Regions from separate parts of the Homo sapiens genome. Here region 2 is linked to region 1. The links come from fine-mapping of genetic effects on gene expression. A gene starts in region 1. The other region holds a variant in brackets. All regions are shown on one strand. Distances are from middle to middle.

Evidence for each region. PIP is the estimated chance that this variant, and not a neighbour inherited with it, causes the effect.
Region 2: its variant is fine-mapped to the expression of AGMO in hippocampus (GTEx, PIP 0.98).

Annotation. Positions count from the first base shown.
Region 1 is chr7:15,557,272-15,571,112 of GRCh38, forward strand. It overlaps AGMO (alkylglycerol monooxygenase), which reads right to left and starts at 4,744. Exons shown (of 13, transcript NM_001004320.2): 1 at 4,449-4,744; 2 at 2,870-3,000. The coding sequence starts at 4,574. It overlaps LOC124901591 (a long non-coding RNA gene), which reads left to right and starts at 1,586. Exons shown (of 3, transcript XR_007060217.1): 1 at 1,586-1,756; 2 at 1,910-2,042; 3 at 2,825-2,929.
Region 2 is chr7:15,192,001-15,209,576 of GRCh38, forward strand. It overlaps AGMO (alkylglycerol monooxygenase), which reads right to left. Exons shown (of 13, transcript NM_001004320.2): 13 at 8,317-9,359. The coding sequence ends at 9,285. Among named protein-coding and RNA genes, the nearest start is that of DGKB, 300 kb to the left of the region's middle. The variant A/C (reference allele first, on the strand shown) is at 8,948.

The DNA of each region.
Region 1 (13,841 bases):
TCCAAAGCATAATTCTTCACAAACGAATTAGCAAAAGGCATACTACCATTTGTCTTGCAATCACCTATTTGAAGGACGTGGCAAGCCCCTGTTGCTAGTGTAGAAAATGAAATTAGTCCCTGGGAGAGGATCCGATCATTGCCGTGTTAATCTAACCCTCAGCTGTTAATGATTTGCACAGGGATTCCCCTTGATGCTGTGGCTTCAACTGAAATATTGTTTTAAGAATTGATGTCAAATTCTTCCTTTTTTTTTCTGAAAGGGGATTGAGAGGAATGGATCCACAGGCTCGCTTTTCCTTTTCTGTTTATATCTGGGTTTGGGATTTTTTTTTAATAGCAAAAAATAAAATAAAAATATTTTTCACCATAGTTTTATATAACAAAACAAAAAAATGCATTTTCAGATAATTTGCTTTACTGGGATCTTTCAGACAAGGCTGTAAAAGAGAAAATTCCTTGAAAAACTTTTTAAAAATCCACATTTCATAATTTAGAATTGTTCTTTACATCTACAAGGAAGAAAGGAGTAATTTGCTATTCTCATTTAAAATACTTTAGAAAAATATTCTCCAAATTAAAGTTCATAACCTTTTACCTTTCTCTCAAAGGGCACCAGAGTTAACAGTTTGTGTTAGTTTAAGGACTGTTATGAGTAGTGGGTGAAGGAAAAGAACCTCATGTTCTATCCCTGAAGGACTGGTTTGTTTTGGTTTCTTTTTTTCCTTCTCTCTCTCTCTCTCTCTCTCCCCCCTTTCCCCTTTCTCTCTGCTTTTTGGGGTGTATTTTTTGTAAAAATATCTCTTTTATTCTTGTTTTCCTGTTATAACTCTGTACCTTTTTAAAATAACACTGCTAAGCAAAAATATTGTATTGAGGATACAGTTTGTATTTCTGGTACTTACAATGTTATGATAAGAGAACAATCTAATTTCATTTGGAACAAAATCAAACTTTAAAAGGTAAAAAAAAAAATTCTGAAGAGTTCATTCAATTTGCTGTCAAATTCATTGTCAAAATGCTTAACAAATGCATTCCAATTCAGTAAAATATATGACCCATAATCGTATATACAGGGCAATTTTCAGTTATTGGGTGACGTTTATAGTTTATCAATAATCTGATTTCCATAACCTATACACTTAACTTTCTGAGAATGAGCTAAATTAACCAACTGGGTATTTTTAAATAACTAAATCTACATCTAAATCTATATACCCTTGGGCATGTTGAATGTTTTTCTTGTTCATTTCTGCTTAAAGGGGACAAGTATTATAATAAAGGAAATTATCTATAATTGTAAATTCTTATTCATGATAATCTGGGAATTAGCTGCAAATTTCTGGAGACATTATCTTCTTCTGATTTCAACTGCAAAATGCAACAATTACAAGTAGTTTTTCAGAGTAAATATTATTAATATTACTTCTACTATATACCTAATAATGCACTTTTCTCAAACACTTATTGAAAAAATTTTACTTTTAAGTTTACTTTTATTTAAACTATTTTATGTAATATATGAAATTATTCCACCTTTTTTAGATATTTAAAGTTTTAATGTTATTTTTTAAAAATCCACCTTAGCTTCCCACTGGGCGGTTAATAGAAACATTCCAAAGCAATGAGCACCAGTCAGAAGTAAAGCTCTTAAAACAGGACAAGAAGAAATGGGTGGGAAGCTGGAATGAGAACATTCATCAGCAGCTCAAAGCACAGACTTCTAAGGGAATCTTTCCTCACCCTCTGCCTCTTTGGTAAGCCCTCACGTGTTGAAGATGACTTCCATTTATTGGTCTTTCCTCTTCACACATTATAATGTACTCTTTCTAAAAAATAGTAGGTCATTTATATCTTACTATTATTGAGTCCCAATATCATCTAATTTTATCATCAACATAATGTTACAGGAATATTACTGCTTTTGGGGAAACTACATGCAACAGACATCATTCCAGGCACAGGAGCTAAAACTATTAAGAACATACACCTCTTGCTCTCAAGTTGTGTGCAAGCTAGCAGGAAGGGCTGAGAGAAAAACAGGTAAGCATCATGTCATGTGATAATTCTAGATCTGGGATAAGCACACAATTCCATGGGACTGTAGTGTAGGAATGCAGGAATGCCTAACATAAGGTTGGAAAACAGATAAAGCTTGCTGAAGAGTGTGATGTCTATGCTTAGACCTAATGAATGAATCTGAATTGGCCTGGATGGCTTTCCAGGCAGAGGGAAGTGCCTGTGGCATGTGGACAATGGCAAGTAGTAAAGCATGACAGGATAAACATGACAAATAGACAGGAGAGTGGACGATCCAAAAGCAAAGCCAGAGAAACAATGTTCTCTATAGTTCAAGACAGGGATTTTTACCTTACACTTGAGGCAATAGAGAGCCAGTGAAGGGTTTCCACTGGATTCATATTATGGAAATGCTTGGCTGCAAACGGGGTTGTACTAGAGCCAGACACCAATTAGCAAACTATTGTAGTTATTCAGAGATTTGTGTGACCTGCTCTAGGGAATGGCTACACCCGAGACAGCTATTCTTTCTGAAGCTGGAAGAGACAAAACACAATTTTAATAGAGAACCAGACCATAACTCAGAGTTGGAACCTCAATAAGGCAAATGAAGCACTCATTTCAAAGGGATATCAACAGAGTCAAGATAAATAATGTTTGCGGTGATTTTTTAAATAAGTGCAAAAAATCAATGAAGAACAAAATATCAAAATTTTAAATAATGACATGAACTGAATTTTTTGGGAAAATTTGTGTAAATAAACTAATTCTCCCATGCATTGGGTTCCTTTGCCCCTCATACTTAGGCAATTTCAGTTTTTATGCTCAGCGTTGTTGACCATCTAACTCACCTTGGAAGTCGAGACAGAACACCAGCTGAGATTGACGTTAAAGCATCATCCAGGCGACCTGGTGGCTTTCCTTTGAGAATCCAGCTGACAACAAGTTCAAGCAGCATCAAAGAAATGAAAAATGGAGTTGCCTGGAAAGGAAGTTGCAGAAAAGAGATGCTATTATGTTCCATATGAAATTATTTTACATTTCCTGATTAGTCATTTCAGAATTGAAAGGCCCAGATTTGGGAAGCCCTGCAGGAGATGGTAGACACTCATTTTAGAGGATTACTTCCTACACAGTGGTAAAGAAGTCTAATTATTTTAGACATACACTAAACATGTGCTCAAATTCTATCATCCAATTTGAATATGAAATGTAATCATAGATATAACCACGATAATTATAATATTATAAGATTAAGAGGAACATCTTCCAAATTAGTTTAAAAAATACATTTAGAATAAGGTAGATAATTAGAGGTCTATTGTCTCTACATGTATAATTTAGACCCACTTCAAGAGGCTTTCCTTAAAGATGCACATAATTCTAATTTTTCATATTAGACTTACCAGAACTATTTCTAATGATGAAATTCAAAGAGTAGAGACAATTTTCTGCTTAGAATTTTAGAGAATATGGTAATTTTACATGTTTGCTTAAAACATGATTCAGATTTTATTCATTTGGTTTTGATTTTTGTTTCACATAATAAGAGATGTTTTGAAAGCTCCACTATTGGTGATGGAGCATTGAATTTGGTTTGATATTGCAGTATAAACAATAATAATTTATGAAGATATCAGTGCCACTTTTTTTAACTTAAAAACTCAGAAAGAAAGTGTAATATCTAATCTTGAAAAAGATACGGATTTTACTCATTTGGAAGCTAATCATGAGTTTTGAAGCTTTCTAAACTGAACTCTCAATAACATATTCTATGATGTCATTTTTTTTCTATTTCTGCCATGAACTAGTGAGTGTTGTAGGAATAACTTTGATAGGGTGGGGAACTTCAGTATTCAAGTTCTAATTCTGGATATTTCCACTTCCAATCATAGCCAGGAACCAGAAGTGAAATGTGCCTCTGAGCACTTCAGAGTTTCAAAGAAAACTTGGGTCAAATTCAAACTTAGGAAGTCAGAGCTGGACCTGGTCAAGCTGCATATCCTTCATTCTGCTGAACTACTCTACCAAATGAAAGAGGAAATAGTTTCCCTGGAAGGGGTGGACAAGTGAAAGATTTAAAAATGAAATTGTTACAAAGTTTACTGATGTGGTGTAACTATTTGTCATTGAGCTTCCAATAGCTACATTTACAATGCCATGGAGTCCAGGAAAACTTTAAACTTTTGTTTTTGTCATATTCTGGAGTGACATATAAAAGAGGGAATTTACAGGTGAAGATGGCTATGGATTGTAAGAAAATTCAAGTGGAAATTCTACTTTTGCTTCACGCCTTTAAGAAACTGAATTATTATTATTAGAATGTAATCATTTGAATAATGAAAGTGAACAAAACCCTAAGGAGATTGACCTTACCATTTATTAAGAAAGCAGCAAGAATAAGAGTAGCCTCTTCCAATAAAGTCTCACCTTTTTTACATAATCAGGCACCTCTTCTAATGTTTGGAATGAAGTTTCACTGGGTTTCATCGTGTAAAACAACATGCGAAATCCCTGGGAAACTGAAACATCCTGCTGGGCTTCTGGGTTCTTCATTTCTGCCCTTGTCTGATTCCCAGCTGGAGAATATTTAGGATTCAATGCTTGAAGCCTGAGGCTGAACAAAGAGGACGAGATGTGCAGCTCAGAACAAGCTCTTTGTCAGAGAACAGCTAAAACCAAAGCTCCACTGAGAGCACACTCAACAGCCGATTCTGTGTAGAGAGACAGGAAAATACAAGGATCAAGAACAAGTACAGAGTTCAGTGGGCGCTGGGCCAGAAACAGGGCATGTGGGGGAGGGAAAAGAGGACTCATACCCAAATCAAAGTCATACAGTGCAGTTTGACTGTAGGTGGAGCAAGTTACTACTTAAAAAAGAAGAGAAAAAACATCATAATAGTGTCTCGGAAAGAAAAAAGTGATAACGCAGGTATATGTTCACTCTGAAAAACTGGATAGAAATTCAAGCATCAAGTCACATAGAAAAACCTTTTTTTCTCCTCATTTAGAAATTTACAATGTGTTCAAGCTTGTAGTTTCTTTATTTCCTACAGAGACTGTGTATAGGCGAGCTACTTAATAATAGCTTGAAAGTCAGTAAGCACTGAATATCTGGCTCCTTATTGCCTATCTATATTTCTGTATCTGAATCATGTTATTACCACTTCTGAATGTTTGCAACCAGTTTAGGGGCATTTGGCTTATTACATAATCTACATTATTTAATGGAAAATTGGCTAGTCACATCTTCTCTATTCTTCTTAGTACTTATGGGAACTTTCTGATTAAAGAAGGTGCCAAGATGTTGCTGTGAGACCTGTTTCTGTTTTACAGAAAGAGCTTAAGTGATTGTACCTTTTAAGTAGATTAGAAGGCACTTAATTTATTACATTACCAGTGAATATGTGGAGCTTGCCAGAATAGCCTCAGCTCTTTACCCAAAACAGCTGTAATCATCCTTTAGCTGCCATTTCATCATTTAAAGATGTTTACATAGATCTAATTAAAGTATCAATGCACGATTGTTTTAGAAAAATATAGAAACTATAGATAAGCAATAATAAGCTGCCCAAAACGCTATTAACATTTTGGTACATGTATGGTCAGTTTTGCTATAATGTGATATATCCATTCCTAAAAATCACTATACTGTACAAAATTGTGCAATAAAAACCACGGGACTTGTGAGAAAAAATGTGATTAGGGTAAAATACTCAAAAACTTCATAATGACCCACAAGGAACAAGAAAAAAAGGATGAGAGCCTAATAAAAATGGTAGCACACTTTCACACGTTACATGGTTAAGATATACATAAATACTAAAATAAATATGATGCTTTACCTTGAAAAAGACCTGAAACTTGTTTTGGAAATTAGGCATTGGAAGATTTGCAAACTGCAAGTTACTTTAGCTTGTTGAAATGTGGGTTATCTGAAATCAGACAGAAAGTTGCAATATGACATATGGGTGTCAAGGCTCACAACACACAGGTGAAGTGAGGGTGTTACTATAAGTGGTGGGTGTATTTTGTGCATCCTAAGCCTTTCTGTTTTTCAGTTCAGTTTTTTAAAGTTCAACTACTCTTTTTCACTGAAAATAAAATCACACATGAGCATAGGCAGTATGCTCAAATTATTTTCTGGTATATTAATCACATTGGAACAAATTTAATCTCAAAGCACATGTTATAGCAGAATTGACTGTCCTTTCAGACCATTCCCATTACCAATAAGTACATATGGACATTAATTTTTAATAAAGGTGTCTGGGCGTGGTGGCTCACACCTGTAATCCCAGCCAGTACTTTGGGAGGCCGAGACGGGCTGATCACCTGAGGTCAGGTGTTTGAGATCAGCCTGGCCAACATGGCAAAACCCCGTGTCTACTAAAAATACAAAAATTAGCTGGGTGTGGTGATGGGCACCTGTAGTCCCAGCTATTCGGGAGGCTGAGGCAGGAGAATTGCTTGAACCCAAGAGGTGGAGGTTGCAGAGAGTGGAGATTTTGCCATTGCACTCCAGGCTGGGGGACAGAGCAAGACTCTGTCACAAAAACAAAAAAAAATTTAATAAAAATGATCATAGTAGGCATACTGTTTTATTACCTGCTTTCAAAACAATTTTGGAAATTAACAATGTGATACAAGAGAAAAAAATACAAACAATATAGCTGTATATAAAGTCAAAAGTGGCAGCATCCTTTCTTCTCAATATATGCACACCTTGCACTTCACTTCATAGGGATAACATATCCTCTTGGTGGGGTTTTTTTTTTTTTTTTTTTTTGCCATATCTGTTTTTTCCTAAAAGGGATAGTTATTATCATTATTACTATACAAATACGTTTCTATATACACATAATGGTTCGATTTTGCAATGGACCTTATCAAACATAAGATACAGCAAGTTCCTTCTTGGAGTCAATAACTTACCAGGAACATTTCTTTTTTAGTATATGATTATACAGGTACAGCCTTTTCTTCGTTGTTTTTACTGGCTGCAAAAGTGTGTGTGTGCATTTCAATGAGCAAAACAAAATTATTTCTAACTTTTTAAAGCAGAAGCAATTTTATACAAGAAAAAAGTTGTTACATAGATGATGGGAGAAGTAAAAAACCAAGCAGGAACAAAGAGGTAATCTAGAGATTAGTACCAATAGGAAGCCACTACCATTGTTAAATTGTAGGGACAAATGGAGAAGGTTGTATTAGTAGGGCCCAGGGGCTATGGTCATCTAGGAAAAGTTAGAACCACCATTGGCTTGTCTAGCAAGAGTATTTCCCATGGAGCAAAGCCAATCAAAGCCAGAAATAATACCCATGGCAGAGAGGGAAGAAAGGGAAGTACTATGGCTTCTCCCTTCTTCCTGCCCACCAGTCTCCCAACAGTACTTCCCATTAGGCTATGACATGGTTGGATTTGCGTCCTGGCCCAAATCTCATGTCAAATTGAAATCCCCAGTGTTGGAGGAGGGGCCTCGTGGGAGATGATTGGATCATGGGGGTAGATTGCCCTCTTGCTGTTCTCCTGATAGTGAGTGAGTTCTCAAGAGATTGGTTGTTTAAAAGTGTGTAGCACCTCCCTCTTCTGTCTCGTCCTCCTGCTCTGGTCATGTAAGGCACACCTGTTTCCCCTTCTGCAGTGATTGAAAGTTACTTGAGGCCTCCCTAGCAATTATTCCTGTACAGCCTGCAGAACTATGAGGCAACTAAAACTCTTTTCTTTACAGATTACTCAATCTCAGATTGTTCTTTACAGCAGTGTGAGAATAGACTAATACAAGCTAAATGAGTCAAAAGCCAGTTGACAGAAAAAGCTAGAAAAAGAAGCCTGCTGAAGGTAACCTCTTACTACACACAGTGCTGAAGGAGAAAGGGAGGGAAGAATCAATCTATGGAAAAAGTCAACCAAGAACCAGCACACCATCATAACTTATTTAATTACTCCTCTATTGTTGTGTGTGTAAACGCAGTCTTCCATTTTTAACTAATAAATTTAATGCAACAATAAACATCATGGTATAAATATTTATACATTTTGCACATTTTTTGTTACATAGATTCCTAGCAGCGGAATTATGCTATGAAGATGATGTAAAATTTACCCTTTGATAATTACTGCCGAATTCCCCTTTCAGATTGCCTTCCCCTCCACACTCTTGCTAACACTGGCTATTATTAATCTTTCATAATTTTTAGCCAATTAGTTAATGAAAAAATGGTATCTTGTTTTAATTTGCATCTCACTAATGACACTGAACATCTTTCAGTACATTTATTAATGTTTTTTTGCTTCTTAATCTGAAATTTATTTTTTAATATGAGCTGCACATTATTTTATTTCATTGTCATTATTGGTTTATAGGCCATTTGTATTATAAATATATAATTCTATGTACAGTATATATATTCTGATATATGTGACAAGTATTTTCTCATTTCATATTCACTAGTTATCTATATGTTGTCATACTGCAATTGTAACTTTGTGTGTGCTGTTATCCTTTGTTACCTCTGCTTTTGGATCTTGCTTATGAACATTTCCCTTGCCAGAATTCCGTAAGAATAATCTTCTGATTTTTTTTTTTTGGAGCATTTAAAAGATTTCTGTTGTTTCAATTATCTGGAATTTAGTTTTCCATATGGTATGTAGTAATTATTTGACTTTTTACCTTGCCTTTATGGATCACAGTTCTTGCCACACCATTAGTCAGTCAATACTTTCCCCACTATTCTATGTACCTGTACTATTTCCAGGCTCTTCATTCAGCTCTATGGATGTTTTTATCTACTCTTATGCTAGTACCATGTTGTCTTCATTATTGTACTGTCATAATAAATTCTGGTAACTTGTAGAACAATTTATCATGCTTGAATTTTATTACTCAAAAATATGAAGCTGTTTTTACACATTTGCTTGTGTAAATGTTTAGACTAAACTTCAAAGCATCCTGTTGGCATTTTAATTGGAACTACATTAAATTCATGGATTAATATGGAAAGAATTGACATCGGAGACACTCAATAAATTTGTTTTGAATGAATTAATGTATATACTAAAATCATTTGAACTTAATTCTATGACTAAATCATGTCAATGCTCACTTCCAACACTTCTATTCCTTATATCTTCCATTCTTTTTTTTTTCCTTTGTACTGTTACAGATTGCACAAAGTTTTCAGGACAGTACATGTATAATTGCATACCTTACTATAATTTTTTTTGCTTATCTATGTGAAGGATAAGTTGGCTAAATATACACTTTTTGGTTCAAATAGTAATTCTTTCAAAATTCAACAGAGACAGAGCACTTTGGCTGAAGACCTGTTAGGTGAAACCAAGGTGGACAAAACACAGGACTTTGAACCTTCACATGAACCAAAAAGAGGACGCTTGTGTTAGTCCTTTTGAACGCTGCCAATAAAAGACATACCTGAGACTGGGTAATTCGTGAGGAAAAAGAGATTTAATGGACTCACAATTCCACGTGGCTGGGGAGGCCTCACAATCATGGAAGAAGGTGAAAGGCATGTCTTCCATGGGCGGCAGGCAAGAAAGAGAATGAGAACCAAGTGAAAGGGGTCTCCCCTTATAAAACCATCCGACCTTATGAGACTTATTCACTGTCATGAGAACAATGGGGGAAAGCGGCCCCATGATTCAATTGATTCAGTTATCTCCCACCAGGTCCCTTCCACAATTTGAATATGAAATGTAGTCATAGATATATCTACGATAATTATAATATTATAAGATTAAGAGGAACATCTTCCAAATTAGTTTAAAAAATACATTTAGAATAAGGTAGATAATTAGAAGTCTATTGGGACTTCTAAGTTGTGGGAGCTACAATTCAAGATGATATTTGGGTGGGGACACAGCCAAACTATATCAACACCCCGGACATTTTCGGATGTCTTCTTGTCTGAGTAACTCTGACAAGATCTGACAAGATCTGACAAGATCTCTGCTCAAAGCTACCTAGTCAAAGGAATTCTGCTGGGGATTCCCTTTTTTTTGGGGGGGGGGGCGTCTAATTCAAGGGAAAATGCTTGAGAAGAGCCTAATATGAGTGTCAGACATCCCATGAGAATGTCTTACATGAGGAACTATTTACTCTCAGTATTTGCATTTGCAAATCAATCAACACAAAAAGACATCAAAAGATCTTTATTGAAACGACATGAAAGAAACAACTGATTAGGAACCTCTGGTGATACTGATAAAGGTCCAATTTTGAGAGAGAAAACACAGTAATTTGAATAGGAGAAATTTAATATAAAGGTTTGCCAGCTGTAACAGGTAGCTGGCATTATAAGGGAGTGGCTAATAAAAGTTAAGAAAACTCAGAAGAACATAGGAATAGAAGACAGAAGGGGCAGCCACTACTCCCAGGGCTGGACTGGGGAACTTGCTTTAAATCAGCCCTTTAGGATGAAAAAGGACAGAAGACGCTGCTCACCAGGAATTTCTCACTAGAGGCACTTTCCTACAAAACCACTTGAAGAGGTGCCAGGTAAGCTACTGGCTGCTATGCATTTCAGGAACTGGGCACTGAAGAATCTGCCTGTGTTACAAGACCCTGCCAAGTGAGCATGTAGGAACAAGGGAGGAAAACCTCTTCCTTTAACAATGACTGTCTGCAGCCCACTCCTGACAAAGCTTAACGTCATGTCAGCTAGCAAAGAAAAATATTGAAAGGACCTATTTCCATTTCACAAATCAGGTAATAAAGTTTGAATTTGGAGATGAGAGGCAATAAACCTATAATTAGTACAAGACATAACACTCTTTAATAATTATAAAAAGTCTTCATCACAGTCTCTTATTTATATAACACTTAGCTTCAATGTTTATAAAATTGTAAAAAATGTAAAGGCTTTTCTGGGAAGTGTTTATGTAAGAAAACCAGAGTGGTAGAACCTCTATAATTATAGATCTGCCTTTTCTTTTGGCATCTAATATTTCAAAATAATATTAAGTCTGAGTTCAACTTGCCTTAAAAAAAAAAGTCATTCATTTCTACTTCCTGGGTGCTTGTAGAATATTTTTGTGCCTTTGAAATTAAATCATTATAGTTTTTTATATTTTGGGTAGAATATTTTTAAGAGGTGAGCGTCCTTAAACCTCAGATTTGAATCTTCCTTTGCTTTAGGGCAATTTCTGCCATTGTGTTTGTGCCTATTATTTATGTTCCATTGATTTTTTTACACTTCTTCACAAATGAGATTTATCTGTTTACCAGATACCATTTGTCTACCATATCCATTATATTGTCTGTGTCCATTTTCATCTCCTTTTTATTTTCTGATATTGTCTTCTTAAGTCTATACTTTGGGTATAGTTTTTTTTGTTTTTCTGTGTTTTTTTTTTTTTTTTTTTTTTTTTTTTTGCTATTTTCATCTTCCTTCTGGGTCTACTTCAAATTTCACAATGGCATTATTTGTTTTCTTAAATGTTTTCCTAAACTCTCTCAGTCTTCCTTTTGTATTTATTTCTTATCATATGGCCTCATTTTTTCTTCAGTTTTTTTTCCTATTTCACTTGCGTGTATACAACAGTTCTGCCTAAAATTATTCTTAGTTTCCTGGAGATAATACTCAAAAGCATGTTCTTTATCAACTTTTAATAAGCTCTTTCCCCTCCTTCACTCCCAATTTGTCTTATTGTGGATGGGTACGGGTTCTTTATGCTTCTTTTCCCCCCAACCAAAAAAACAAAAAAAGATGTGGATGAATAGTCCTTGGGTCCACTCCAGGTATACGTGGCACTTTGGAGTTTAGGTCTGTCTTATCGGTTCAGCATGAGATGGTGGAGGATAGAGCTATCACTCAGCAGCCCCAGCTATCCCAGCAGGCTTTTACAGTGAATTAGAGCTGCCATGGCACGTATCAGCTTTCCTTATTTTGATTTTGTTCTCCTTGGCCTCTACTCTTTCTATAAACATACAAAAGTACCATTTGAGATCTTCCTATAATTTGTATTTGTTGAAGCTGGGGTAAGTCCAAGGCCTAGTGTTTGGGGTAACCCAGTCAGAAAACATGGCTTTTGCTTTTGGACAAATTGACAATTGTGACAAATGAGAATTTGTTTAGAAGAAAGATTCTCAATCCATGACATTTCTAGCTTGTAACAATTGCTATAACTCCCCCACTTTGGATGGTAAATTTCTCCTCAGCTGTCATTGGCCCTCAAAGCCAAAATGACTCCAATTAGAATGTATCAATATCACTCATAGTTCTCCCCACCAGTACTGACCACATGCAGATTACAGGGTTCATCCATTACAGCAGAGGAAAGAAACTCTTTTTTTTTCTTTTTTTTTTTTTTTTTTAAAGAAACTGGGTTGAAGAAGTAGTTCATTGAATGGTTGTCTTACAACCAAGGATTAAGAGTAACATACAGAGATGCATTTCAAGGGGAATTCAAGAAAGGAAATCCTAACGTTCTGCTTGATGCTGCCATATTTCCAAACTTTAACTCTCCAAATGAGGGGACATATGGTTTGCTAGACTGTACTCTTGAACTGGTGAAATCCTTTCCTTCTCCACGTGTCTTTCTCTTTAGTCATTAGAATCATTTACTGGGAATTAGACTGGAAACCTACACTGACATGATCATCTTAAAAAGTTTGTTTATATCTCTAAAAGTATAAAATAATATATATTTACTGTAGAAATATAGAAAATGCAGAAGATTTTTAAGAAAAAAAGCACTCATAACCACACCAATCAGATTGTAGTCTCATCAATATTTTAATGAACATCTTGTATTTAGGGTCTTTTTCAGGCACATTATTTTACATAGAAGAGTTCATACTCTATGTGTCATGTGAGGTCAAGCTTTGTAAAATTTGGAAGCCACATGATGAAAAGACAAAGCCCCAAATTAGGTGTCTGAGTCTCTGAGTTACTACATAGAGAAGAGCAGCCCATCAATCAGGTCATTATATGAGCAAATACCAAATTTGTAATGTATTTTGTGTTTTATTTGTTATTATTTGAACCTTGTTCACCTAACGGCTAACAATCTCCTAACTAATATATCCAGAAAACCATTGGAGGGTTTTGAACAGAAGAGTCACATGGTCCAATGCATTGTATGAAATGATCATTTTGCTTTTTTTGTGAAGAATGGACTTTAGAGAGGTAGGCTGGAAGCAGAGGACTCTTCATAAATAGTTGATATAGTTCAGGTAAATCTTGCTTACTTTCACTAGGATAGTTGCAGCAGAAAGAGTCAAAGTGAAAGGGTGATTGTGAAAACATATTAGAGGTAGAGCTGATAAGGTTTGCTAAGAGATCAGATGTGGGGAATGAGATTAAAAGAGAGAAGACATGAATAATTCAAGACTTTGATTCAACCTGCTGAAAGAATAAAGTTGTTATTTACTGTGATAGACAAACTGCAAGATTTGGCTTAAAGCATGATATGAGATGCCTGTAGACATCAAAGTCGAGATGGTTGCACAGGTTGATATATAAATCTGGAGTTCAAAGCCCAAAATAGAATTCTCAATGAAAAGAAAAAGTACTGACAAAACTAATTACAAGCCAAACATAAGAATGATTTTCATGTATTCACTTCAATCATATTCAAATGAATAAATAATACTCATTTTTAGTTTGAAAACCAGATCTATTATATTTATTTTATTTTCATGACCATTTTTGGAGTTCAAATGCAAACATAATATATGATAATTTACATATTACTATAAATAATCTCATAATATAAGTAATTTTTAGAGAATACTGTTCATATTGTAATATATAGTATGGTAAACATATTTTAATATTAAGACATATCCAAACTGTTTT
Region 2 (17,576 bases), 360 kb before region 1:
ACACACAGAGAACTATTCATCAAAAATCTGTTTTAATATGTTGGCAAATTTATACAATAGTATATTCAAAACTGTTTCCAAAATAAATGTTTTTCAAAACAAGAAATAACAAAACCATGTTAATATGGAGAAGAGGCAGAAGTGTGGGATTCCCGACCAAAGGCCCCACCTTCGAGCCTGGAAACCGTGACCCTAAATGAGAAGTTATCCCTGTTTTCCTGCCCAAAATGTTGCTTTATCCAAAATCACCCTGGCCCGCCATGCCCCCCACATCCTGTACCCATAAAAACCCCAAACCCCAGGCTCCACAAGCAAAAGAGTGGAAGAGTGACAGAGCAGCATGGCAGAGAAGGAGAGAAGAGAAGGAGCATCTGAACACTGAGAGGAGTTCGGCTGGGGATGGTTGGAGAGATCAGCCACAGGACAGCCAAACTCCAGGGAAGGTCATCTTCCCACTCTATCTCCTTTCTAGCTCCTTTCTAGCTCCCCATCCATCCCACTGAGAGCCACCTCCATCACTCAGTAAAATCCTTGCATTCACCATCCTTCAAGTCTGTGTGACCTGATTCTTCCCGGACACTGGACAAAGGTCCAGGTACCAAGAGCGCAGGGTGTAAAAAGCTGTCACCCTGACTCTCCACTGAGCTGATTAACACTTAGCCATCCCTAGACAGCAACTGCTAATAGAGCATTAATTGTAACACACCCTTAGACGCTACTGTGGTTCCAGCGCCCAAAAGTGCCCGCCCTGGCTCCTGCACCTGTCCATTTGAGTGTTCCCCCTCCCATAAGGAGTTTGAGCACCAGGAGCCAAGCAAACTAGCCACACCCCTGTCGTAAGTCCCATAAGGGGGTCAAGGAACTTTCCTGTTTCAATGTCACCAAAGCAAATTTTTAAAAAACCTTCACACTAATCATCTAGGTTATAGAATATTAAAAATGACATAAACAGAATAATTATTCTTAATATATACTCTAATCAGTTTTCTTAGTCACTTCTATCTTTAATAGCATGCCAGTGGCATTTTTTGAAGATATTGTTTCTAATATGGTGTTATTATTTTGAATTTTTAAAATAAAATTATCCGTATTCTTATTCAAAGTTTCATCTTATGGTTAATACATTCAAAAGTGTTGACACTTGCAATTGACTTTTCTCTGCATAACACTTATATTCTGAAAATACTATCCATACAGGTACTGAAGTATCTAACAAGCTATAAAATACAGCAAATGTATGATATTTTCTAATTTTTCTCTTATTAAGTGATATAATTAACTCCAACATATGTCATAGCTCTTGTATTTTTGCCTACATTCAGAATAACGTTTCAAAAATATTTTACAAAACAAAATTTATCAAGTAATTTGTCTTATTTATTACTTGTTAATTGTTTTACCAAATTTACAAGCTGTGAAATTATGGCTTTTTAAATTCTGTTCCTTCTTGGTACATAATATAAGTTTATCTCTTTTGAAACAGAAGTTTCATCAATACTCTCAAGCTTCAACTTTGGGTGTCAGAGTTAAATCTCACTTGAAGTTGGAACTCTTATTATATAATTTGTTCAGTCCTTTCCTAGTTTAATAGGGATCAATTTCAATATCTCCCTGTTTGCAAGCTTCGTTTTCAATAAGTGAAATTCACTAATAACTTCAGGAACAAAAGTTTTGTCAATCTTTACTGATATTTGTCTAAAGATCTCCAACTAGTTCTAAACAAATGCAACCAAGTTTGACAGAGTCTACCATAAAGTTCAGTAACATGAGAGGACACAGGTTTGATTTAGAAAATTTTTTTCAAAGTCTTACTCACTTCTAAAATCTGATGTCTGGCAGCAAAACATACTTTTATTTTGATGTATTCTTTTGTATTTAACATCAATTGTACAACAAATAAATTTCTAGGCAATTTGCAACTTTGTATACATAAAATATTTTTAAATTTTCACAATATACCTCTCTAAATACTATTATTTTTATGTCCAACACAAATAATTTCAAGAAATTTTTCTGCTAACAATCAATCTCTTAATTTAGAAAGAACACTGCTTTGTATTACTACACTTATCCACCAAAATTTCTGTTCATACTATCTCTACAAAACAAATATAATTTTATTTTCAGTATTAAACTTTTTAATTTGTAATGATCAAGTGTTTCACATTTGATGGGATAGGCTGTTAAAAATTACTTCAGTTACATTAATTGAATGAAAATATTGATCCGTTTGGAAAATCAGATGGCAGTGAGATGAAACTGGTATCTTTTAACTGATTGCAAAGTCCTTCAGCTATGGAGCCAGCACATGAATAGCTACTGCTTTATTTTTTGTTTGTGCACAAGGTAATTTTAATGGTTAAATAAGTAAAATTAAAAAAAAAGAAAAATATATATAAGTAAAATAACTTAAAAGTCTTTTAATCTGAATAATGATGCATTTCAGAGAGTGCATATGCCCTCTGCAGTTGCATGTGTTAGATCTCCCCTTTGAGCATGAATATCTTAAAATGAGTACAAACTTTCGAAATAGATGCTGATACTTCTTCAGCACACTTATTCCTTCTGGTTTTTGTGCAATCAGTAATATCACTGATCTTCCCCCACCCTGTGAATAATATAAGTTGATAAACATTTTATGCAAATTATATGTTTAGCATAAGTTTTATTCAAAAGCAAATCAGTACTTAGCTTACTAAATATGGAGTTATTAATTTGGTGGGGAGGGGCTCATGGCATCCTGATGATTTTATGCATCTTGCAGCCTATTACGTAGGCCAAGCCAAGGTTTCCTAGTGTGCCGTGTGGCTGCCAGGTTCCATTTTTAGATGATCTCCAATACCCCCTGTCTAGAGAGAATTAGCCCCCTTTAGGCTCCGATTGTCTCAGCAGACATCATTTTACCAGCAAGTTAAAATGCATGCTGTGTACTGCCTCAGAAGGGGATGTGTTAGTTGCATTTGTCTAATGTCTCTGAAAGGGATGTGTTGGTTGGATTTGCCTGAATAGGATAAGGGGAGGAGAGAAACCATTATGTATGGACATCTTTTACATTTAACTTTGTGTTACAGGGAGAGCTCCCTTCAGTGAGCACACATACCTCACACTACTACAAGAGACCCTGGAAGAAGCCAGAAGTGTAAAATAGGGATCTACCAAACCTAACCCCCTGTATATTTTAACACTAAAGCAGTCATTGTCTGGGATAGATACCTGAGGTTCCTTGCCTCATGCCAGGGAAATTAAGGACATGGAAACACAAAAGAAGTGAGTTGAAGAGCAGAGGTTTAATAGGAGCAAGAAAGAGAAAAGAGAATAGCTTTTTTCCTTGCAGGGAGAGATGGGTGCCCCAGTGGGTCTTCCGTGCCCCTGGTAAAGTGCACAGGGTTGTACAGATTGGCTTGAGGAGGTAGTGCCTGATTTACATAGGGCCCAAAGATTGGTTGGACCAGGTGTGACGCTTACATAGTACTGCGAAGAAGCTTGTCACTCCACCCTAATCTTTTTATTATGCAAATGGGTTTTGTACTTGGCTGGCGCCATGTTGTCTGCTCCTTACCGTACACGTGGTTAGCAAAGAAAAGGGAACATGGAACCACCGTTTTGAACATGCCTAGTCCCCAGGTAGCCCCTTTCCTATTGGCACAACTGCTGGCATTTACCTGTGCAAGCTTCTAGCTTGCCTTTCCATGACTGCAGCTTGATTTTACAGACTGCTTTTTGTTAGAAAAGAAAATGATTTAGGAGCTGCTTTTCTTTAAAAGGAAAACCTTACCGAGGACTTCCTTATCCTCATAATCTGCCCAAATAATGCCTTGTTAACTCCTGTATCATTACCATTATTAATAATCTTCCATTAAAAATGAAAAATCAGACAAATGCAAACAGGACCTATGGTGACAATATTTTTCGACCACATCTCCATTCCCCACTCTACCTCCATTCACTCTCCAGCTTGCTGATGCTTACATAGTATTTACATTTTCTGGCTCAGTTCCTCCCCTTCCCTCCTCTCTTTTCTTTTCTTTCCCCCTCCTCTCCCCTCCCCTCTCCTCTCCTTTTTGACAGAGTCTCGCTCTGTCACCGGGCTGGAATGCAGTGGTGTGATCTCGGCTCACTGCAACCTCTGCCTCCCGGGTTCGAGCGATTCTTCTGTCTCAGCCTCCAGAGTAGCTGGTATTACAGGCACCACCACCACATCTGGATAATTTTTATACTTTTTTTTTTTAGTAGAGAAGGGGTTTCACCATATTGATCAGGCTGGTCTCGAACTCCTGACCTCATGTGATCCACCCAACTTGGCCTCCCAAAGTGTTGGGATTACAGGTGTGAGCCACCACGCCCGGCTGGCTCCGTTTCTTTTAAAATGTATGCAAAATGATCTCATGTGAAACAGAAAACTTTGGTGGCATGTCTAAATATCCATGCTTACTTAATCAGTATTACCTCTCTTAATTAACATCTTTGCTATAGAAACAATATTCTCTCACACTGCACAACTTTTCTGCTTATTTCTAAAACTTGACAGGAGGGACAAGAGAAGTTCTCCTTCATTCTAGTTTGGCTGTAGCTTCTGCAGCTTATCATTGCCAGAGGTTTGAAAAATATAGAACCTTTGGCACGTCCTCAGTCTTACTAAATTCAGTGTTCCCAACAGTCATTTCCGTTTCTAAAAAGATCCACAGGTAATCCTGATGCATAAAGCAAAGACTGTGTCTTCCTGGTTTCTGTAATGTAAATCAAGACAAGTTGTAATTTGGGGCTTACTGCTGTTAAAATGAAGAAAGAACATGCCCAAGAAATGAAGTTATTATGATTCATGGATATTGGGGTGCCTGGGTGGTTGAAAATGTTTACATAAATAGTGCTAGAGTTGTAGAATGTCAAAAAGAAGGCACAATCTGCAAGAGATAAACATCAATGCTTAATTTGCTAATTTTTTCTAATTGTGTCTTGGGGAGGAAGGAATGTAAGTTGTTAGGAAGAACGGATGGCAGAACTGGAGTGAGATTTGAAAAAAATGTTCTAATAATGAATAGAACGTTTTTTGTTGTTGTTTTTTTTTTCCACTGAGGCAGGCTTAAGATAGAGCCAAGCTGCTTCCATCATGTTGCTGAAAATTATAACATAAAAAATGTTTTAAGATTCTGAAAGTCAAACTAGTCTGTTTTTTGCTATTTTATCTTGGGTTTCTGGAGTCTATGACTATGAGAACATGGGCGAGACATTAAAAAGGAAGCTTATTTTCTATTGTTCTCCCGAATAAATCCTATTACTGTACACTATAATGTATACCATATGTTAAAGAATTCCAGTCAATGATTCTATTGCAGATTCCACACTGAGGGATTAAATTATATAATCACTAGTAAAAATGAAATTTGAAAATATTTAATAAACTATCATGTAAGCTGTTAATGTTAAATACAAGGGTTTATATACTTTAGCAACTAATTGAACATCTGATTCATGATTAGGAATGCACATATTGCTAAATATCAGGACTCTGAGACGATTAGATTCAGTTTAACAAAAATAATTTGATGGAATGAGATGATATGGAAGTAAATGGCATAACTAATAGAGCTAAGGTAATGAGCAAGTCTGGAGGAAACTGACAAGTCCTGTAGCCTCTTTCAGACATATGGCAATCCTATAAGTAAACTTACGATGTTGCCATTCTTAGAAGGTTTAGAAGTTCTGGACTCATTCACCCTGTCAATTAATCTTATGACTAAAATACTTATCCTGAGAACTTTTTTTGTATCTTGGAGCATCAAATTGAATTGAAAATACTCTGAACTTAAACTCCTCAGCTTATACTTTTAAAGGCTTGCCTTATTCAGATGTCTGACATCGTGGAATGGGGAAACATCATGGACTTCAATGTTCGACTTCAGAGAGTTTAAATTTTATTTTGGTCACTTATTACATTTCATGGGCCTGTACAAGTTATTTAACCTCAGACTCAAAATTATCTGCTATAAAGTAGTGTTAACAGCTCCTAACAGGATTGTAGAGACTAAATAAAATAATACTAATAGAGGACTACTCATTAAACAAATGCTCCTTTCCTCTATCTTTTCTTATGGTAGATTAGGAAAAGTAAATATCTTCATATGATTTGCAAAGTCAGTTTGCATCTCTCCGATAGAAGTGGTGAGTAATTGACGAGTCCTATTTTTAGGGCTTTCCCGAGAGAGAGAGAGAGAGAGAGAGAGAGAGAGAGAGAGAGAGAGAGAGAGAGAGAGAGAGACAGAGACAGAGAGAGAGTGTGTTAAAGTCCTTCCAGTAAGCATACATTACATGGTATCACTCAAGATCAATTTACAACATTAATAATAGCTGTATGTTCTGTCATCATGTATTAGTGCTCTGCAAAAGAAAACTGGACTGGAAAATTAGCAGGGTTAAAGAATAAAGTGAAGAATAAAGTGCCTTGGTTAATAATGCACAGAGGCCCTAGAAATGTAATCGCCCAATGGGTTCATTGCCTGCTGCCAGGACAGAGCCGATTTATCAAGACAGGGAAATTGTAATAGAGAAAGAGTTCAATTCATGCAGAGCCAGCTGAATAGGAGACTGGAGTTTTATTATTACTCAAATCAGTCTCCCTGAAAATTCGGAGACTGGGTTTTTTAAGGATAATTTGGTGGGTAGGGGGCCAGGGAATGGAGAGTGCTCACTGATCAGGTCAGAGATAAAAATCAAAGAGCCTTGAAGCTATTCTTGGCTGAGTCAGTTCTTGGGTGGGGGCCACAAGACCAGATGAGTCAGTTTATCCATCTGGGTGGTGCCAGCTGATCCATGGAGTGCAGGAGCTGAAAAATATCTCCAACACCAATCTGAGGTTTCACAATAATGATGTTATCCCTAGGAGCAACTGGGGAGAGTTCGAATCTTGTAGCCTCTAGCTGTATGACTCCTAAGCCTATTTTCTAATCTTGTGGCTAATTTGTTAGTCCCACAAAGGCAGCCTTGTCCCCAGGCAAGAAGGGGGTTTGTTTTAAGAAAGTGCCGTTATCATTTTTGTTTCAAAGGCAAACTATAAACTAAGTTCCTACCAAAGTTAGCTCAGCCTGTGCCCAGGAATAAACAAGGACACCTTGGAGGTTAGAAGCAAGATGGAGTCTGTTAGGTCAGATTTCTCATTGTCTTAATTTTTTCACTGTTATAATTTTTGTATAGGAGGTGTCTGGAACATTACCTGTCTGGTAACCACTCCCACTTTCATTGGCACAAATTTGTATCTTGAAAATATCTGTATTTCTAATAGAAAACCATTCACAATCACAGTGAGGTAAACCCAAGAGAGAAGAGAGAGAATAGACAGAATTCAATTTACTCAAAGAAAACTGAACTTCACCACAAAAGGATCTTTTCTCATTTGGGGGAATTATTTATTAACATTTCTATTATTAAACTCATTTTTAGGCTAATCCTATAAATTCACATATATTAAAGCATATACACATATTTATGTATCATTCCTTGGGGAATCATTAAGCTCTTCTGACATACTAAACAACTATGTAAAGATTAGCAAAAAGTCTCTTTTCTTTGCCATTACTGAAGAATGTGTTTTACCCACTGAAAAGTCTCTAGAATGTAGAATCAGGGTCTTGAGAATGTTTATGCCTTAAATTTCCTAATTTCAAGCCAGCAGAGGGCTCCCTACTGTAACATGATTCTGTATATGTATACAAAATTCTGTGAAAATTGTTGTTAAGGGACAAAAGCAGGATTCAATATATGTTATAGGCTTACGTATTGTCTATAACTATGTGTTAAATTAAGAAGTATAAAAAGAATGAAGCAAAGCCAAACCCACTTCTGATACTTGAGATAGAATGTGTTGCTTTTTCATCATGCAAAATTTAATCTTCCTCTGCTGTTCCAGTTTGAAAACTAAATATGCTTCAATTCTGTATCCTCAGTTCACATAGACACCTGCAGTCTGATTCTCTTAATACTCTATATTTTTGTCCATTCAAAGATTAAATAATGTATTGCTAATATGAGATTATCTAAGTCAGGCTCCTTAACCCAGTGATACATAGGCAAAGCTCAATGAAGAACAGCATTAGTTTTTTTTAGTACATGTGTCTTTGATTATTTAAATTATTAAATTTTATTATTAAATTATTAAATTTTAACTTGATTTCAAGAAATATTGGATAAATGAAAAATAAAGATTTTTTTTTTAACTTTTTCCAGTTCTCATTCTTTGGACTTCATCCTGCTTATCCCTGTCAGTTCCCTCCTAACGAAACACTTGGTGGATTTTTACAATCCCAATGAACAATGTACACACAACACCTTGGGTAATTTTATTTAGAGAATTAACATTGTTCTGATAACTTTAAATAATGCAGAATTGCTGCATGCTGCCCAGTCTGCCAAAACAAATTGACCAAGCATATTAGAGAAATGTATGACAAAGTAACCTGTTGAAAAAACTAATTCTGACAAATTCTGTTCATTTTTCTTTCAGTGATGTCTTTTTTCTTTGAGACGGAGTCTCGCTCTGTCGCCCAGGCTGGAGTGCAGTGGTGCAATCTCCACTCACTCCAACTTCTGCCTCCCAGGTTCAAGCGATTCTCCTGCCTCAGCCTCCAGAGTAGCTGGGACTACAGGCGCACACCACCATGTCCAGCTAAATTTTTATATTTTTAGTAGAGACAGGACTTCACCATGTTGGCCAGGATGGTCTCTATCTCTGGACCTCATGATCCGCCCACCTCAGCCCCACAAAGTGCTGGGATTACAGGGGTGAGCCACCGCGCCTGGCCTCAGTGATGTCTTTTTCTGGAATGCAGCTTCTTAGGTTATATGGATTGCAAAGGTAACTGTGGCCTTAGGAAGACAACCAATGTAATACATTTTTATGACTACAAACATGTATCTATGCATAATTTTAGCAAACATCAAAGGAAACATTGTTTTC[A/C]AATTGATGTAAAGGCAATATTCCTTCTTGTTTTTACTGTTTTTAAGTTTCATCCCTTCTTTTTATACTTGTCATATAAGGCTATCAGTTAATATAACATCATTATATTTGAAATCTTTTTTTAATTGTAGTAAAGGGGGGAAGTAACCAAAACTGACTTTAATTTTTAATAGAAAATAACAAATGTGAAAGGCAAACAATAGTAAATAAGTAATTTTACTTTTCATTGAAGAAATAGTTCATATAAGCATTACATAAAATAATTACATTTTAATATGCAGTCATAATATGCGTGTGGACAACTCATTAAAAGAAGAGAATTATGTACAAATTCAGGTTATTTCCAAGGGTGAGAGGTGAGTTGTTTCATGCTTCTAACTCCCCAGAAAGCAATGCAAATGGAAAAAACAATCTGAAGAAATAAAACACAAAGAGAAAAAAAAATTAGAAGTGAATCAATACTATTGCTCAACTGAATTAAAAATATTTCCCTAGAGGAAAATGAACATGGACATTTTAGGGAGTCAAGTTATTAAATTAAATCTAGCAATTGTTCACTGATAGAACTTAGCCAATTTAACTTAAAACATGGTGTGTGAAGACAGGAGCAGGAGTTAAGAAGTTTTATTTCTGTGGCTTGTTTCTTATATTCACAAATCTGGGTCATTTCAAGGAATGAGGCTAGACAAGTTAGATATTCAGACATTTCTTCTGACATTTGGAGATACAGCATGCTGTATGCATTATACTAGATGATCTAATTGCTTATATAGGTTAAGAAACCTTTGGAATAGGAGAAGTAAAAACACTGTTAAAGAATCCCTCCAAGTCAGTATGATCTAGCTTACTATGAATTTCGCCCAACGTGAATTAAATTCTAAACACTGCTGATGATTTACCTCCTCAGTCTTTTGATTTTATCAGGTGTAAAAATGTAACTGCAAATTTCTTTCACACTGAAGACTTAACTGAATCATATTAAGCAGCCTGAAAATTTCATTGAGTTTGTTCAATCCAGGCTCTGGTCATGGTCTTTGCACCATCAGATTTCCCAAAAGTAAACACTTCCCTATGCTCTTACCTAGGCACCGACAATTAAAACTATAGGATTGCTTTCCTGATCACCATTTTAGGTGGTTGGGTAACTGGAATGATGATGAAAGCAAACAATGCCAAAACAACCAGAGTTATTGGGATAGCTGTGCAGGAGTTTCTCTATATTTTTCATGTATGTGTATACTTCCCCTCCATACTATTAAAATAGGACCAGATGCCTCTCCCCAAGAAGAATATCACTATACCTGGAAGATTCACTGAAATATACAAAGAGAGAACATTTAATTAAGAAGATGAAGGCATGGGAGCATTCTGGTGTGGGGAACTCCGGTGAAGTCAAGACTGTTAACTGAGGACAGCTGTTAACTCACAGAAAATACCTTGAACTATGCTGATTTTGCTATTAAAGCATGAATGAGGAAAAAACATCACCAACAACCAAAATACAAATGAGCAAAAAAAAAAAAAAAAAAAAAAAAAAAAAAACCCTCCCAAACAAGGATGTTTCCATTTATGAGTGGGTTGTTCAGTTTCATATGAACCTCCTGGATCTTTCTAGAGAACCATCATCCTTCACATTAGTCAGGTTGATGGACTTCTTCAAATTCATGCATTCCTTTTAGCCTATAACACCCACAATATGAAAAAATACTAAAAATAAAATCAGCAGTTATATTGAAGGAGAAGTCAAGAATAATATTAACGTCTTGGAGTTGCCTCAGAAGTCAAATACAATATATTTAAAGGCTGGTTTTGATTTTGTTTCTTTTGACTGTAATTCAAGAGAAATGACCTCATGGCACTTCTTCTGATGGTGCCAGGTAAAATAATACTGCGCTGGGGGGAGTATTTTTGAAAGCTCTTAGACTTGTGCAATGAGTTGCATTTGTCCATGAAAATGGGTTAATGCTGAGAGGGGCGCTGAGAAGATAGCTTTTCAAGTGAGACAGAGATGATAAATCTATAATATCAGAGTAAATAATTTACTTTAGATCCAGAATATTCAGCAAGCAACTAATACATACCTTGTGTTGTGCAGGGTGCTGGAATCTAAGCTATATTTGGCACTAGAAGTCTTTATTGGTTACAAGGATGATCTCCCTGAGGGAAGGCTGAGTACAATTACTTCAGTGAAACCTCATAAGTTGTATATAAAGTTTTCGGAGTATTCTCATAAATCTCATAATTCTCCTCTTTTCCATTCTCAATTCCCCTAGACTATCCATACTTTCATCTCGACTTCCAGTACTATTAAAAATTTTTACCTAAATAGGAAGTGGAAAAGATTACAAGTCTAGTTATGCCTTGTTATTAATCCACCACTTTCCACTAAATCTTTCCACCTTTGAAACTGTGATTCACATCCTTTATCCTCTAGGACCTACCTCTAAGTAAATCACAAAAATCTTCCCTTTTCCAATTATCTGAAATGCTTTCAAATTCCTACCGAAAATGCAGTACTGAAGTTAGCAGTCTTATTTTTTTTTTCTTTTCTTTTTTTTTGTTTTTTTTTTTGCTTGCTTGCTTGTTTCAGGCTCCTATGTGTTATCCCTTCAAAGAGATGTACAACTGGTTAAGCCTAGGAGTCAGGATCAGATTATATTAATGTGCAATGAAGACCTTTGCTTAGGCCAGCACTGTCCCACATGCCTTTATTAGATTATGTCATCTAATTCTCATGACAAACTTTGGTGTACTGGTATCCAATTTGGCAGTGAGACAGTAGGAACTCAAAATTCATGTGGTTATACCAAGGAATCACAAAACTACTAAATATCAGAGCTAGAATAAAGTTTTACATTTACCCCAAGAAAATCTAACTGCAAAACCTAGGAAATCATTTCAAAGAATATGAACATCCATAGTGAATTCATTTCCTTTTCTGTAGTCATCACCTAGATTTTCCTAGTTATTTTTCTTCTTGTGTCAGTAACCGCTAGGCTTCTGAGACCTTTTCACTATCAATATTTTAAGAACAAATTTGGAATTTTTATATATAATAAAATCCAGATTGGCAAAGGATCATAGAAATAAAATAACATAAATGTGCCCTTCTAAAAATATGTGACTCTGAAATATTCACCATTCCATTAGAAAATATTTCAGTAGAAGAAAACAGAGTTAATTTTACACTTTAGAATATATGTGTTTATATATAAATATTACATACAATGTATAGATTCAAATATATATTGCACTATAATTTTAAGCCAGAAAATTATTTAACATAGAGTCAATATAACCACCTGATTACCGTAGTCACTCCATTTAAAATTTTCCTTGTCCAACTGTTCTCTTGATTTTTGTATTACGCCATTTATTTTAGGTCTCCTTAGTTGATTAGATTAAATATGTCACTTTACTTGATAGTTCATTAACACATTTCTCAAATATTTGTTAAATAAATACAGAATTCCTACTTAGGCTAGTGAAAGAATAGATGAAAACTGTAGACTTCTTATTTTGCAATATTTGTCTCTAATCTACATATATGATGTTTCCGGATACATACAAACTCAATGCACACTTATTGTATCCTAGTTCTAGGCAAGTCCCATGATTTTAACAGCTGGATTCTAAATATAAAGCAGAGGAAGTTCATTCTTAGTGTCAAGCCGTCCTTGTGCTAACACATCATTAGTGGTCCTTGTCTTCAGGCTATTTCCTTGACTTCCCAGGAACCTCAACTCTGATGCCTGAACTTTTGGCCTGTACAGATGCTGTCATGTTTCCACCATGCCTTTCCAAAAAGTTCATCAATTGGCAGGTGGCTAATCTGTCAGTAATCCATATTAAAATTTTAATGGGGACTGGTGTTTTATTCTGCTGCTCCTCTCAGTTATGTGTGTGTGTGTTTGTTGCTTTTGTTTTAAGAGACAAGGTCTTGCTATGTTGCCCAAACTGGACTCGAACTCCTGGGCTCAAGCACTCCTCCCATCTCAGCCTCCCTAGTTGGGCCTATAGGGACATATCATCTCACCCAGGTTTATGTCTGTGTTTTGAGAGGCCTTATTCAAAATGGCTCTAATGAAGAGGAAATCAAGCATCTAATCTTAAAGGAGAGAGAATAGTGTGCTTGTTGCATGCTCTCAAATTGCAAACCCTCAAATTACAAAGAAATGTGGTGGATTTGACTTATACCTATGTACATATCTGTCTCTTCTGGTTTTAATACACTTACTATATTTATCAATAAGCAACCAGAAGAGAAAAGAAAAACAAATATCACTTTGTGCAGTGGAAAGTTCCAATTACAACTAGCTAGGGATCTTCCACAGCCTTTGTGGTAGTGATGAAATAAGACTTTTCAAATAATTCAGCCTTCAGATAAGCTTACAAATAAAATGAAAGCTTTAATGTACTTGAATAATTATTCACAAGAGAAAAAAAATCTCTGAAATTGCTAATTTTTTTGGTCTCCCAAACATGTATTTATGTCACAAAGATTAAAATAGAAAACATTCATTGAGATATATCTTATTTAATTTTATATGGATTGCCAGCAGTGGTATGAATATGTATATCCCTGAATCACTAATAAGATGAATAAACATGTTAAATGAGCTAAGTCATTTTGCTGAATGATAAAGTCACTTACTCTACTTTGTAAAGGAAGAAATTTGAGTTACTTTAAGTATAAAATGGCATTTTCGTGAAGATGTCAGACTTAGTCATTTTACAACAAATTGAAGGGTTATTACTATTTAGTGAATTATATGTTTTCAGCCAAATATAGGTTTATATACTTATTTCCTAAAATTTCCCTAAAATTTTTAAGAATTAGAATATTAGAATAACTATTTTGTATTCTAAACAAATGTATACCCTGGCCCTAAATGGAAGAGTACATTTTTCTGAAAAATTGTTTCTGTAGTATCAGTGAGGTTTATAAAATACCAGTTAACTATTTAATAGAACTAAAACAATCGCAACAGTAAGAATTGATTTAAAGGAAACACATTAAATATGGAGTACTTTTTTCCTAAATTATTTAAAGAAAACTAAAGGTAATCCTTTGTTAAATACACTTTTTAACACAATGTTTTGGTTTTTTTTGAGATGACCATTGTCAGCTGTACAGATAAGAACCCAAAGAGAGATTAAGCCTGAACTGCTCCAAAATATCTCTATTTCCTATGAGCGCAAGAGGACAAATAAGCACAATGGAACTAGAATATAAATTAGAGCCAAATGTACCATAGCTCTTTAGGAACTGGAAACATCAGAAATACATTAGATAATTATAGATTTTTTTTCTAGAATTTTGCAAGAACCCAGTTTCACAAATGCCAACTTACAAGAAATTGAGAATTGTTTTCACTTTGAAAATATTCTATATATACAAACATATTTATTCATATTCAGAAAAAGGGAAAGAAAATGTTGAAGAAATAAATTACAAATACTGCATCTATGACTTTGAAATCTTGCATTATCTCTTTGTGCTTATTTCTATACCCCATTCAAGAGAGAACACAATCACAGCTATGTTTAATATGAGGCCTTTTAAGGTTTTTTCCTATCTAAATTTTAAATCAAACAGTATTACATTAGTTTATAAATATATATCACAGTTCTTAGCTGATGAAAAACAATGTAAAAAGAAAGTTCATGTGAATGACCATGTGATAACATCACCTTATTGAAAAGAATATCAATAGTATCAGAAGAGGTTTTTGTGTGCTTGTTGCACACCTTATTGAAAAGAATATCCTTCAATCAATAAGTATCTACTGATACTCATTTTCTAACAGGAGAAAATACTAAACATAACGCAATCAAGTTTTAAAAAGATAAATACAAAATACACATTAAAACAGAGTTTTCACTGCTCCAGCTGAACTCCGAAAATGGAAACATCAGATTTTCACTATTTTACTATTTAATGGGGGCAAAAGACACTTATAATTAGAGTAACAAAAAGTACTAGCTTAATTTACACAACAAATGCAGAATCTTTCATTTCACGCATTATTTCAGTTCCCTAATTTTATACAATTATTTACTCACTTCTAAAGGTCTAAACTGCCTAAGAAAGTGTGCATCCTTTTGGACACTACTACAGAAGAGAAGCCTATGGTTCATCCAGACCGCATTTCAACTATCACGATAACATTTGAAAACCATAAATATTAGCCACAAGATTAGAGATCATTTAGAGGTCTCCAGAGCCTACCCATAATTCAGAGAATATACTTTAATACGGTTGGCATGAATTAGCTACTGCACATGTAAACCCATCTGGTTAAAATTGTATAAACCATAGTTAGCATAAAGTGAAAATAGATGCTACCTTTCTCAAAAACATCTGTGAATTTTTAATCTTTGATTTGGAAGTTATGAATAAAGTGTTTTTAAAAGATGGCCCTAAAAATTCCAATATTACCAACCCTTGTTCTAAGAGAATGACAACTCAATAATGTGGATTTTTAAATTGTCTTTGAATAACTACTAGATTCTTGCCTTTCCTTATAAACACCGACACACTTCTATTTACATTGTTTTCCTGGAGAATTTCTAAATATTTTGATACACATACTCTTGATGTTCTGACCTAACTTCTCAATTTTTACCAGCTTAGATTGTTATATTTTTAGTTTAACTTTGTCAAAAGGTCAGGTACATAGACACTAGCATAAAGTGAAAATAGGCCGGGCGTGGTGGCTCACGCCTGTAATCCCAACACTTTGGGAGACCAAGGTGGGCAGATCACGAGGTCAGGAGATCGAGACCATCCTGGCTAACATGGTGAAACCACGTCTCTGCTAAAAATACAAAAAATTAGCCGGGCTTGGTGGCGGGCACCTGTAGTCCCAGCTACTCGGGAAGCTGAGACAGGAGATTGGCATGAAGCCAGGAGGCGGAGCTTGCAGTGAGCCGAGATGGTGCCACTGCACTCCAGCCTGGGTGACAGTGCGAGACTCTGTCTCAAAAAAATAAAGTAAAATAAAATAAGGAAATAAATAAAGTGAAAATAGATTTACCACAACTAACACACAGAGAAAACTTAGAGACAACCAAACTTGATTATGTCTGCGATTTATAAATCATGAATCACAAATTATGCCTGTGATTTATAAATAATGAATATATTCATGGGGTGTCCAGAAAATGTGCCTTGTTTAAATTGAAGCTTGAATTTGTAGTTTTCTAATCATCCAAGTTCTTAATGCTACAGAAGAGTGACTTTTTGGACTTTTTCTTAAACACTACAGGGCAGAAACAGTAAGGATACATAGAGAGAGGGTTGCAATAAGGTCAAATTAATAAAGGACCAAATATCATTTGTGAGAAGAAACATTTGGAAGAACACTGACCATCATGTTGGCATAAGTATCTTAGTAAAGGTGTACTTTAGAGAAATAATCTTTTTCCACCAATAATCTTCCTCTGGTGCTCACCATGGAACCTCATGTTCTTTACTTTTTATGGATATGAGAAGAAAATTTTTTAAAAATCAGGGCTATAAAAAACTTTTAAGAATGGTCTGTTTTAGTTTTTATAAAGTTGGGAATAAAACAAGAGCAGAAAAATAACAAGGCATTTGGTGAACATTATACCTAGCTTGACTCTCTGCTGAGATTTTTTATGCATTAAAATTAGTGATGGGCAAACCATTCAAAATAACCTGCACCCATGCTCTGAAAACTATGATAGCACTATTTTTTGAAGTATAAGATAGTTCTGTGAATTTAAAAATTCTTTAACTTTCTTATTTTACTCATATTTCTGTAAATAAGTTCTAGCTACAAGTAGAAACAATTTCATTTAATTTTTCTGCATACGCCTAACATTGGCACAAAATTGTTTGCCTCATATCCAGCATGTTTTGAAACAGAAGATTTTTGAATAAGATGTTGCTGGATTCATCATAGACCTTAAGTGTCCTAACAGAACTCTCTTGAATGATGAGAAACACGACATTTAATCTAAATTCAAAGTACTACACTTTTCTAATACCTTTTATTACTGACCACTAAAATTTAAAGCATTTACATTTTAAAACCAGAGGTTTGTTTCCATAAAAAATTATCAAGAAAATAATTCAGTCCTAATCTTCTACCAAAAGGTCATTTTTGTGCTAAATGACTGGCAGTGTCGCCCATTTCCTCCCCAATCCTGTTATCACAGCCCACCGATTTTCAGTGTATTCCAAAGAGCAAAATGTACTTCTGGCATTTCTCTGACATAAATAAAGAGTCTAAGGCATCTCACATGGATAACAGTTTTCAATACTTGATGTACAAAAACTTCAATCTGGAAGAGCATGTGTTTACAAATGCAGAATAGCATGCAATACTGCTTATCCAGGATTTTTAGTGTGCTGTTAAACAAATTATTTGACTTTCTCTACCATGTAGGAAACAAAAAAAAGTCTCAAAAAATGAGGTTTTTTTTTAGGGAAAAAATGCCATGTTTACAGAAATCACAGAGATGTCTGGTTTTAAAAATAAGACAGCCTATCTTGAAAAGATATGTTTTGAAAAGATTCTTTCGTATTGTTTTTGTTTATGTCAAAGGGATGATTAGAGCCCCAGTAAATGGGAACCTCCCAGCATACGCTAATAGAAGG